Homo sapiens: one gene and its partner. The protein of the gene in region 1 interacts with the protein of each later gene in a pairwise test. Each region holds a gene or a part of one and is shown on either strand. Other genes may lie near its edges.

Evidence for each region.
Region 2: the proteins of CEP295 (region 1) and EXOC1 interact in a two-hybrid assay, tested with the Homo sapiens proteins (2 studies listed by BioGRID and IntAct).

Annotation. Positions count from the first base shown.
Region 1 is NC_000011.10:93,695,062-93,700,529, reverse strand, and holds part of CEP295 (centrosomal protein of 295 kDa), read right to left. Parts: intron 5,049-5,468; exon of another isoform or gene 5,034-5,048; coding exon 4,896-5,033; coding exon of another isoform or gene 4,857-4,895; intron 4,211-4,856; coding exon 4,113-4,210; intron 3,849-4,112; coding exon 344-3,848; intron 1-343. UniProt on the Homo sapiens protein: Centriole-enriched microtubule-binding protein involved in centriole biogenesis.
Region 2 is NC_000004.12:55,860,148-55,863,647, reverse strand, and holds part of EXOC1 (exocyst complex component 1), read right to left. Parts: intron 3,238-3,500; coding exon 3,107-3,237; intron 1-3,106.

The DNA.
Region 1 (5,468 bases):
CACTTAAACCCAGGAGGTAGGGGTTGCAGTGAGCCGACATGGTGCCACTCTACTCCAGCCTGGACAACAGAGCGAGACCTTGTCTCAAAAAAAAAAAAAAAAAGCAAAAACAAAAGAAAATTTAAAAAAATTAATTGGACTTCACGTAACTATTAACCTCATAAACACCATGTGGGTGGATCGATTTTTGTTTTAACTTCCACATCATTTAGGGTGAAAAATCAAAGCACAGTTAAGGTCAAACTACTTTTTCTCAATAACTGAAAACTTGTAATCCTAGTATTAAAAACTGATTTGGGTTTAAACTTCTAGTGTTTCATTATTATTCAGGTTTAAAACATACCTGACTGTCTTTAAAGAAATCCTTCAAAGTCTCTTCATGTTTCTGTATCTGCTGCTGCAATGCTGTTTGTCTCTGTACAAGCAATTTTTCCTGGGCTTTCTGGCTATAATGCAGAACTTCTCTTTGTAGATCCAACTGTTTCTGAAGTCCCAAGTTATCTTGCTGAGTTAAGACAGACTGTGAAAAACTCAAAAGTCTATCTTGAAACCCTGGGATCACAGGATTACTTGGGGGGGCTGCATGTTCATTCTGGGATGAATACAATTCACAAGTGCTTTTAGGTTTAGCTTCTGCAAAAGGTAGTGGAATAAACGAATGCTCTGTTTCCTTGGGTAGAAACAAAGAGGGGATAGTATGCTCAGCAGATTCACTTTTGTTCAACTTTCTTTGTTTGTTTAAAGACAGTTCTTCCTGGGGTTTCTCATAAGAATACATCACTTCCCTTTGTGCATCCAATTGTGCTGTCATATTATCTTGCTGAGGCAGAATAGGCTTTGATAAACTCAAAAGTCTATCCTGTAATCTTGGAATCTCACGATGACTTGAGGGAAGAGTATCATTACTTTTGGTTGGGAAAGACTTCTGGGTTCTTTCAGAGTCAGCAACAGGCACCTGGGATACAAATGAAGAGGAGCAAACTTGTTCAGATGATACCCTTTTCTCCAATTCACTTAATCTTTGCAAAAGCAATTCTTCTTGGACTTCCTGTATAGATCGAATGGCTTTCTTCTGTGTATCTAACTGCTGTTGAAGTGCCTGCAAATCACCATGGTGAGACTGGATAAAATGCTCAGAAGATACCTTTTCCTCAAATTTACATGGTTTTGACAAAACCAATTCTTTCTGGGTTTTCTCAATAGAAGGAAGGAAATCTGTCTGTGCATGCAAGTGTTCTTCAAGTGCAATCAAATTATCTTGTTGAGGTAAAACAAGATGTGATAAACCCAACAGCCCATCAGGCAATGTTGGTATCTCTGAGTGACCTGAGGATACTATATTATCACTGTTAATTGAACATGGTTCTTGGTTTCTTTCAGATTCATTAAGAGGTAATGAGGCGAATGAATGCTGTGGTACTAGGGGTAAGGAAGAGGTGTCAACCTGCTCGGGAGATATTCTTCCCTCCCATTCACTCTGATGTAAAAGTAATTCTTCCCGAGCTTCTTGTCTAGCTAGAATGATGGCTTCTCTCTGTGTAGCTAACTGTTCTTGAAGTGCCTTCAAATTATCTTGTTGAGGCTGGATAAGTTGCGATATCCTCAAAAGCCTATCCTGCAATTGTGGGATCTGAAGGTGGCTTGAAAAAATTTTACTTTCACTCTCTGTAAAAAGAGGTTCCAGGATTGTGCCAGACTCAGCTGAAGCTAACGAAGTAAATGAAAGCTGTACCAACTGGGGTATGAATGAAGATGAACCAGTTTGTTCAGAAGATGTATTTTCTTGGGTTTTCTGGCTGAAATGAAAGGCTTCTTTCTCAGTGTCTAGCCATGCTTGGTGTTCCTCCAAATTATCTTGTAGAGGTAGCATATGTTGTGAAACTCTCAAAAGTCTTTCCTGACATCTTGGGATCTTAGGATGGCTTAAGGGAATGGTACTGTCACTCTTGATTGATATACATTCCTGGAATCTCTCAGATTCATCCACCTGGGAAAGGGATGAGGAGGTGCCAGTCTGTTCAGAAGAAATTCTTTTCTCCAATTCACTTTCTGTGTGTACAAATTCCTGAGTTCCTTCTTTAGCACCAAGTATTACCCTTTGTATTTGTGACTGTTCTTGGAGTATTGTCAAATTTTCTTGCTGTGCCAGGCTATGCTGTGGAAAACTAAGAGACTTATCCTGAAATGTTGGGATTATCAAATGACAGGAGGGACCTACATTCTCCTTCTCAGATAAATAAAGCTCCTGAATTCTCCTAGGCTCAGCTTTAGCAGAAGCTTGTGAAGCAACTGAATGCTGAACAACCACTGGTGAGGATGAAGAGCTCACCAGCCCAGACTTACTGTCCCCCAAATCTCTTTGTCTATGTAAAAGTAATTCCACCTGAGCTTCATGCCTAGCCTGAAGAGTATCCCTCTGTTTAGTCAACTGTTCTTGGAGCAACTTCAAACTATCATGTAGAGGTAGGAACTGCTGTAGGAAACTCAAAGACCCATCCTGAGATATGGGGATGTCAGATTGGCATGAAACAAGTCCTTTCTCGCTCTTAGATGAATGTTGCTCCTGTATTTTTCCAGATTTTGTATCAGCAGATGGTAGTGAAGTAAATGTATGCTGAGCTACCTGAAATGGGAAAGAGGGCTCAGCCTGTTCGGAACATACTCTTCTATCCAATTCACTCTGTTTATGTACATACAATACTTCCTGGGCTTCTCGCCTAGCCTGAAGGCTATCCTTCTGAATATTCAACTGCTCTTGGAGAAATTTAAAATTATTTTGCTGTGATAGGATAGGCTGTGAAAGACTCAAACGCTTATCCTGAAGTTGTGAGATCACATGATGGTCTGAGGAAACTGCAATATTATTCTTGGTTGGTGAAGATTCCTGGATTCTCCCCAAATCTGCTTTGGCAGAAGGCAATAAAGCAGATGAATCTGGAGTTACCAAGGGAAGGAATACCGAGAGGCCCGTTTGCTGTTCCACTTCTTTCTGTTTGCACAAAAGCAACTGTTCCTGAGCTTCCTGAGTTGCCTGAAGAACTTTCTTCTGTAGGTCTAACTGTTCTTGGAGGGCCTTCATATTACCTTGCTGGGCTGTGATATTCTCTGACGGCAGCAAAGGCCTATCATGCATTTGGCTGATTATAGAATGGCTTGTGGAAACTGTACTTTTGCTCATGGCTGAAAAGGGTTCTTGAATTTTTCCTGACTCAACTTTAACAGGCAGAGAACTAAAAGAATGCTGAGGTACCAGTGGTACAAATGAAGAAGGTTCAGTTAAATGGTAAGATATATTTTCACTATTCTCTGAGAACAATTGTTGGGATTCTAAACTTTGAAAAGTTGTTGCCCCAAATGTTTCAGATATTTTTCTAGCATCCTGTGATATTAGCTGCCTGTCATGTGACAAAGCCCTTGAAAGTGTCTCAGAATCTTTGGGGACCAATTTATAGTCTCTCTGTTGTGTTTCAGTCTGAGAGAATTGCCTTAGATGTTCTTGTGATTCTAAAGCTTGATTGGTTAAAATATCTGAAGCGCGTAATGTTTCTGTTGTTTCCACCTGTCTTTGTGGAAAGTGATTTTGTCTCGCTACCTGAAAATGATCTTGTTCTAATTTGGAGGTCTGTATAGGTTGTATGGGTTGGTATTTGTTAGGACTCAACTTGAGTCTCTGACCTTGATCCCAATGCTCTGATATAGCAGTCGGTCTCTCAGATTTCCATGATGGCACTGATATAACAGAATCAGTTATCAATGATGGAGCTGACACCGATGGGCACCTTCCTTTTAACATAGTTTGATATTCAAGTAATTGTTTCCTGGCTGTTTCAACAGACTGCCTGTGTAACCTACCAAAAACAAAAGCAAACAATTATTGTTTTTTAATGAAAAATAAAAAGCCCCATGTCTATACATTAAATTTAACAAACAGCAATCTAGGGTTGGCAATACTCATGGTGAAAAGAAATTACACTCACATTGTCCTTTAAGAATGGCAGTTCTAAATGCCATAATTCTAAGGAAATCCAAATTAGATCCTCATATAAATGAAACAATAAATCCTAAAAATGTAGCCACATACGATCACATATAAATTATACCCTAGCTAATACCTGTTTTGTTGTAAAAGCTGATGTTGATAGTTACGAATCATCTGCCTATGACTATCTTCATCAGAAATTACAGGGCATGATGCTGGAGCAATGCCAACCTAATAAAAGACAAAGTTACTAATTAAAAAGCAAATTTAGAAGTAAGTATTGAAGTATTTTTACATACAGTTCTATAATTGTAAACTTCCATACAGCTTTATTTTTTATAAAATGACTGGCATTTCCATTAGTAAGAAATGAACTAATCTGTCATTCTCCTTCAGTGCAGGTCCAAAAGCTCAACATACGCATTACCTACAAACCATGGTCGTATCTATTAGTATCCTATAGAAACTGAAAGATGAAAGCCGTAACTGATGCAAATTTATTCATATATACATACATTATATCAAAAAAAGACCAAATAAGAATTACAAAGGCATTTTACTTTTATTATTATTATTTTTTTGAGATGGAATCTCACTCTGCAACCTCCACCTCCCAGGTTCAAGCGATTCTCCTGCCTCAACCTCTGGAGTAGCTGGGATTACAGGCACGTGCCACCATGCCCAGCTAATTTTTGTATTTTTAGTAGAGATGGGGTTTCACCACATTGGCCAGGCTGGTCTCGAACTCCTGACCTGAAGTGATCTGCCTGTCTCGGCCACCCAAAGTGCTGAGATTACAGGCATGAGCCACCGCGCCCAGCCATCCATTTTACTTTTCTAAACGCTACAAGTGCTCATATTTTCTTGCCCCCCTTACCAAATGATTTATGTAGTGATGAGATTTTCTGCATCCTACCCCAGTCGGTTGAGTTTTTTTTCTTTTTTCTTCTTCCAGCTGAGCCCTGAAGCAGTCAGTTTCTAATCTTAATTTCTGCTGTTCAATTTGTTCAAGTAATTCCAATTGCTTTTGCTTCTGCTCTTCTATTTCCATTATCTAGGTAACAAAATACTATTGATCTATTAACAACAAACTCATACAAAGGCAAAGATAACACACGTTCCATTTAAAAGAAATTAGGTTTCTTCACCAAGGGTACCAATTTTCAAAGAAGTAAGTGTTGATGCTTTATCTCTGTTGTTATCACTGACAGACTGAGGATGGGAGTAAAAGATGGGAAATGGGAAAAAGAGAAAAAGGGATAGAAGTAAAAAAAGGCAGAAGGAAAAGAAAGAATAAATACATTAACTATTTCTACTTTCTGAGAGCACAGTGAAACCCTGATCACCACTGAAGAACTACCTTGAAGTAGCAAATGATGTACAGCCAAATTCTATGTTCACACATTTAATAGTATAAATAATGACTAAAGAAATTAAATATCAAGGCCTCCTAAAATACTTTGACTTCTTAACCATGCTCATTAAGAGG
Region 2 (3,500 bases), on another chromosome or scaffold:
AAAGTGCTGCTAGGTCTCAAAGTTCTTTATTTTTTTGAGACAGGGTCTCACTTTGTTGCCAAGGCTACAATGCAGTGGTGCAATCATGGTTCACTGCAGCCTCCACCTCCTGGGCTCAGGCAATCCTCCCAACCTCAGCCTCCTGAGTAGCTGGGGACACGGACACATACCAGCATGCCTAATTTTTAAAATGTTCTTGTAGAGACAAGATCTCCCCATGTTATCCAGTTGATCCTCCTGCTTCGGCCTCCCAAAGTGCTGGAATTACAGGCATGAGCCCTGTTCCTGGCCTAACGTTCTTTCATGTGATAAAGAAGCTCAACCAATCTGAGAGAATTACACTATAGTTTCTTCAAGTCTCTTAAGCCACATTATAGCAATAATCCACATCAGGCTAATATTTCTCCCTTGAATGAATAGAACTACTTGACTATTATATAAAAAAACAGGCTGGGCTTGGTAGCTCACGCCTGTAATCCTAGCACTTTGGGAGGCCGAGGTGGGTAGATTGCTTGAACCCAGGAATTTGAGACTGGCCTGGGCAACATGGCAAAACACTTCTCTACAAAAAACACAAAAATTAGCCGGGTGTAGTGGCATGTACGTGTAGTCCCAGCTACTCGGGAGGCTAAGGTGGGAGGATGGCTTGAGCCCGGAAGGTGGAGGCTGCAGTGAGCCAAGATTGTGCCACCGCACTCCAGCCTGGGTGACAGAGTGAGACCCTGTCTCAAAACAAACAAGCAGACAAACAAACAAACAAACTTATGGATGTATACTTCACATCCAAGGAATTAAAAAATAGGCTCAAATATTCTTAATGTTCTACAGGGTAAAAGAATAATAATATATTTGATTCATTTAAAGTGTTATTTGGGGGAAATGTAAATACATTAAAGTAAGGGAAGTTATATCAGACTTTCACTGTGAAGAACTGGAGTATCTCAGGAATCAGGACTTGACCTTTGGTACAACAATCATATTACAGCAGCATGGAACTACTAATTAGTTCAATTTATAGCTTAATAAACAGAATTGAAGCGTCAAAAATTTAAAACCTGCATATACAATGAAAAGGTAATTGCATTATTACTTACAAAAAAACACAACAAGAGTATTGGCAACCAATATGAAACTTGATGGGAAATAATCTCTTCCCTGGGAATATTTCCCATAATACCATAAAAGAAGCTGAGTGCTCCAGTGGCAACACTCACAAATCAATGTGTGATACTAAATGGCTAATGTTAAGTTATGTATAAAAATTTTATGTTTTATATCCATATATAGCATACACACACCAAGGTGCCTACATAAAATGCAAAAAAAAAAAATCCATTAAGCAAGTCTGCAAGAGGCATCAGCTGTGAGAATGCATTCAAATAAGCATTCAGCAATGTTACTGAATTATGCAAGTCAACAGGGTTACGAAGTGCAAAACTACTGAAGGGAAAAATGTTTTTTAATAAAGGTGCAGTTTTAAAAACCCTTAAAGTGTTTTGTCTTAACAGAAAACAACCAGAAAAGTTTCCACTCTTGATCCCTCCCCATGGTAATAAAAATTACTTACAGAAGTTTTTTTTTGTTTTTTTTTGTGGAGACAGAGTCTCACTCTGTTGCCCAGGCTGGAGTGCAGTGGCGCAATCTCGGCTCACTGCAACCTCTGCCTCTCAGGTTCAAGCAATTCTCTTGCCTCAGCCTCCCAAGAAGCTGGGACTACAGGCGTGTGCCGCCACGCCCAGCTAATTTTTTGTATTTTAGTAGAGACAGGGTTTCACTGTGTTACCCAGGCTGGTCTTGAACTCCTGAGCTCAGGCAATCCACCAGCCTCGGCCTCCCAAAGTGTTAGGATTACAGGCGTGAGCCACCACGCCTGGCCTAAATTATTTTTAAACATCCCATTATAATTTTCTTTCCAATCTCTAGCTTTCTAAATTTCTGTCAAATCCTGTTTCTACATTTCACATTTTTCTAAGCATTGGGTGCTCCTTAGGGATAAAACAAAGGGCCAGTAAGCCTAGAATACTTAAAGAAAAGGCATGATTTACATTTGGAAGAAATCTGAATTATACAGATATAGAGGGCTCTCCTCAAATTGTTCTTACTTCATTTTTTTTGCACCCAACTCAACTACCTGTCATTTTGTCCAGATTTTTGATCCTTGGAGGTTTGTACCAAAGTAAGGGTAAAATCAGAATTTTATTTTAACAGATTGCTTTACACAGGCAGTTTTTTTGTTTTTTGTTGTTTTTACTTTGTGCCTTTTTAGTAAATGTATGAGATTTGTAGAGTCAAAGAGCACCTGTAGTTTCACTAGTATAAGCCTTGCTATTATGTTCATCCCATCGACATACAAGTAGTTGTGGTACAAAGTATTCTCTTGTGCTATGGAGGTGTGTTAGGGCTGCAGAGAAAGATGAAGGGCAGAGTGAGAGAGGGCCAGGGGGAGGAAGCACCTAATTTAATCAAAGGAGGCCAACTTGATTGCTTTGAAAAAAGGGTATTGCTGTGAAAGCTTTGAACTGTCAGGAACATAGGTGGTCCTTTAATGTGATTATCACATTAATCACCTTTCTTGGAGTTTGAGTGTGGTTTATCTATAACGTGTAAGTTTATATCTTCATAGATCTTATTATCTACATTCCTTAAAATAAGGTATGTAACCCACTATCATTTCTTTTTTTTTTTTTTTGATCCACAAACATCAAAGCCATGGTGGCCTCAAAAGGCCAGTCTGGCTGCCCCAGCTGGTGATTCTATGTTTACTCATGAAGACTAAGGAAGGATCACTTTGGTTATATGATTTTGATTAAACAAACAAACAAACAAGCAAAAAAAACTCATGACACACCACTTTAAAATCCATACTATGTATAGATTTTATACAAATTATACTTAATCTAAACACAGAAATGTATACAGTCAAAGTAATTTTTCTCTAGTTTATGTAGCTTGTGCACAAACATAATTATAGCTTAAAAAAAGCAAAAAAATAAGAAAACAAACATATATATTAATTTGTTTTTAGATCATTTTAGAATATGTAATACCATGTTATAAAATGAAAGATGCTTTCTGAACACAGGTCAAAGAACTGAGAAAAACCTACTTTGATAGCATCTTTGGCATCTACCACAGCAAGATCTCGAAGGGCCCATGCAATCTGCCTTTTGTAGAAATCTCCCTTATCGGATTTCTTGACTTTGACCACCTTAACCTGCACAGGGCGTTCAGTTGTCACTGTTGAGTAAAACGCACACTTTTATTAGAAATATTACCCCTTTCACTCATTCTTCATTCACTCATTGCAAGTATAGCTTTCAGGTGCCTAGTAGCTGATACTAAAAGAGGTGTAATACTTTGCAACAAGTGCTATGACCGAGGAAAGCACAGAATCCTAATAGAAGCATCTAAGTCAGACTAGAAGATCAGAGGAGATTCCTTGAAAAATAAAGGAATGATATATTAATAATAAATTCAGACCAGTTTTAAAGAAAAGTATG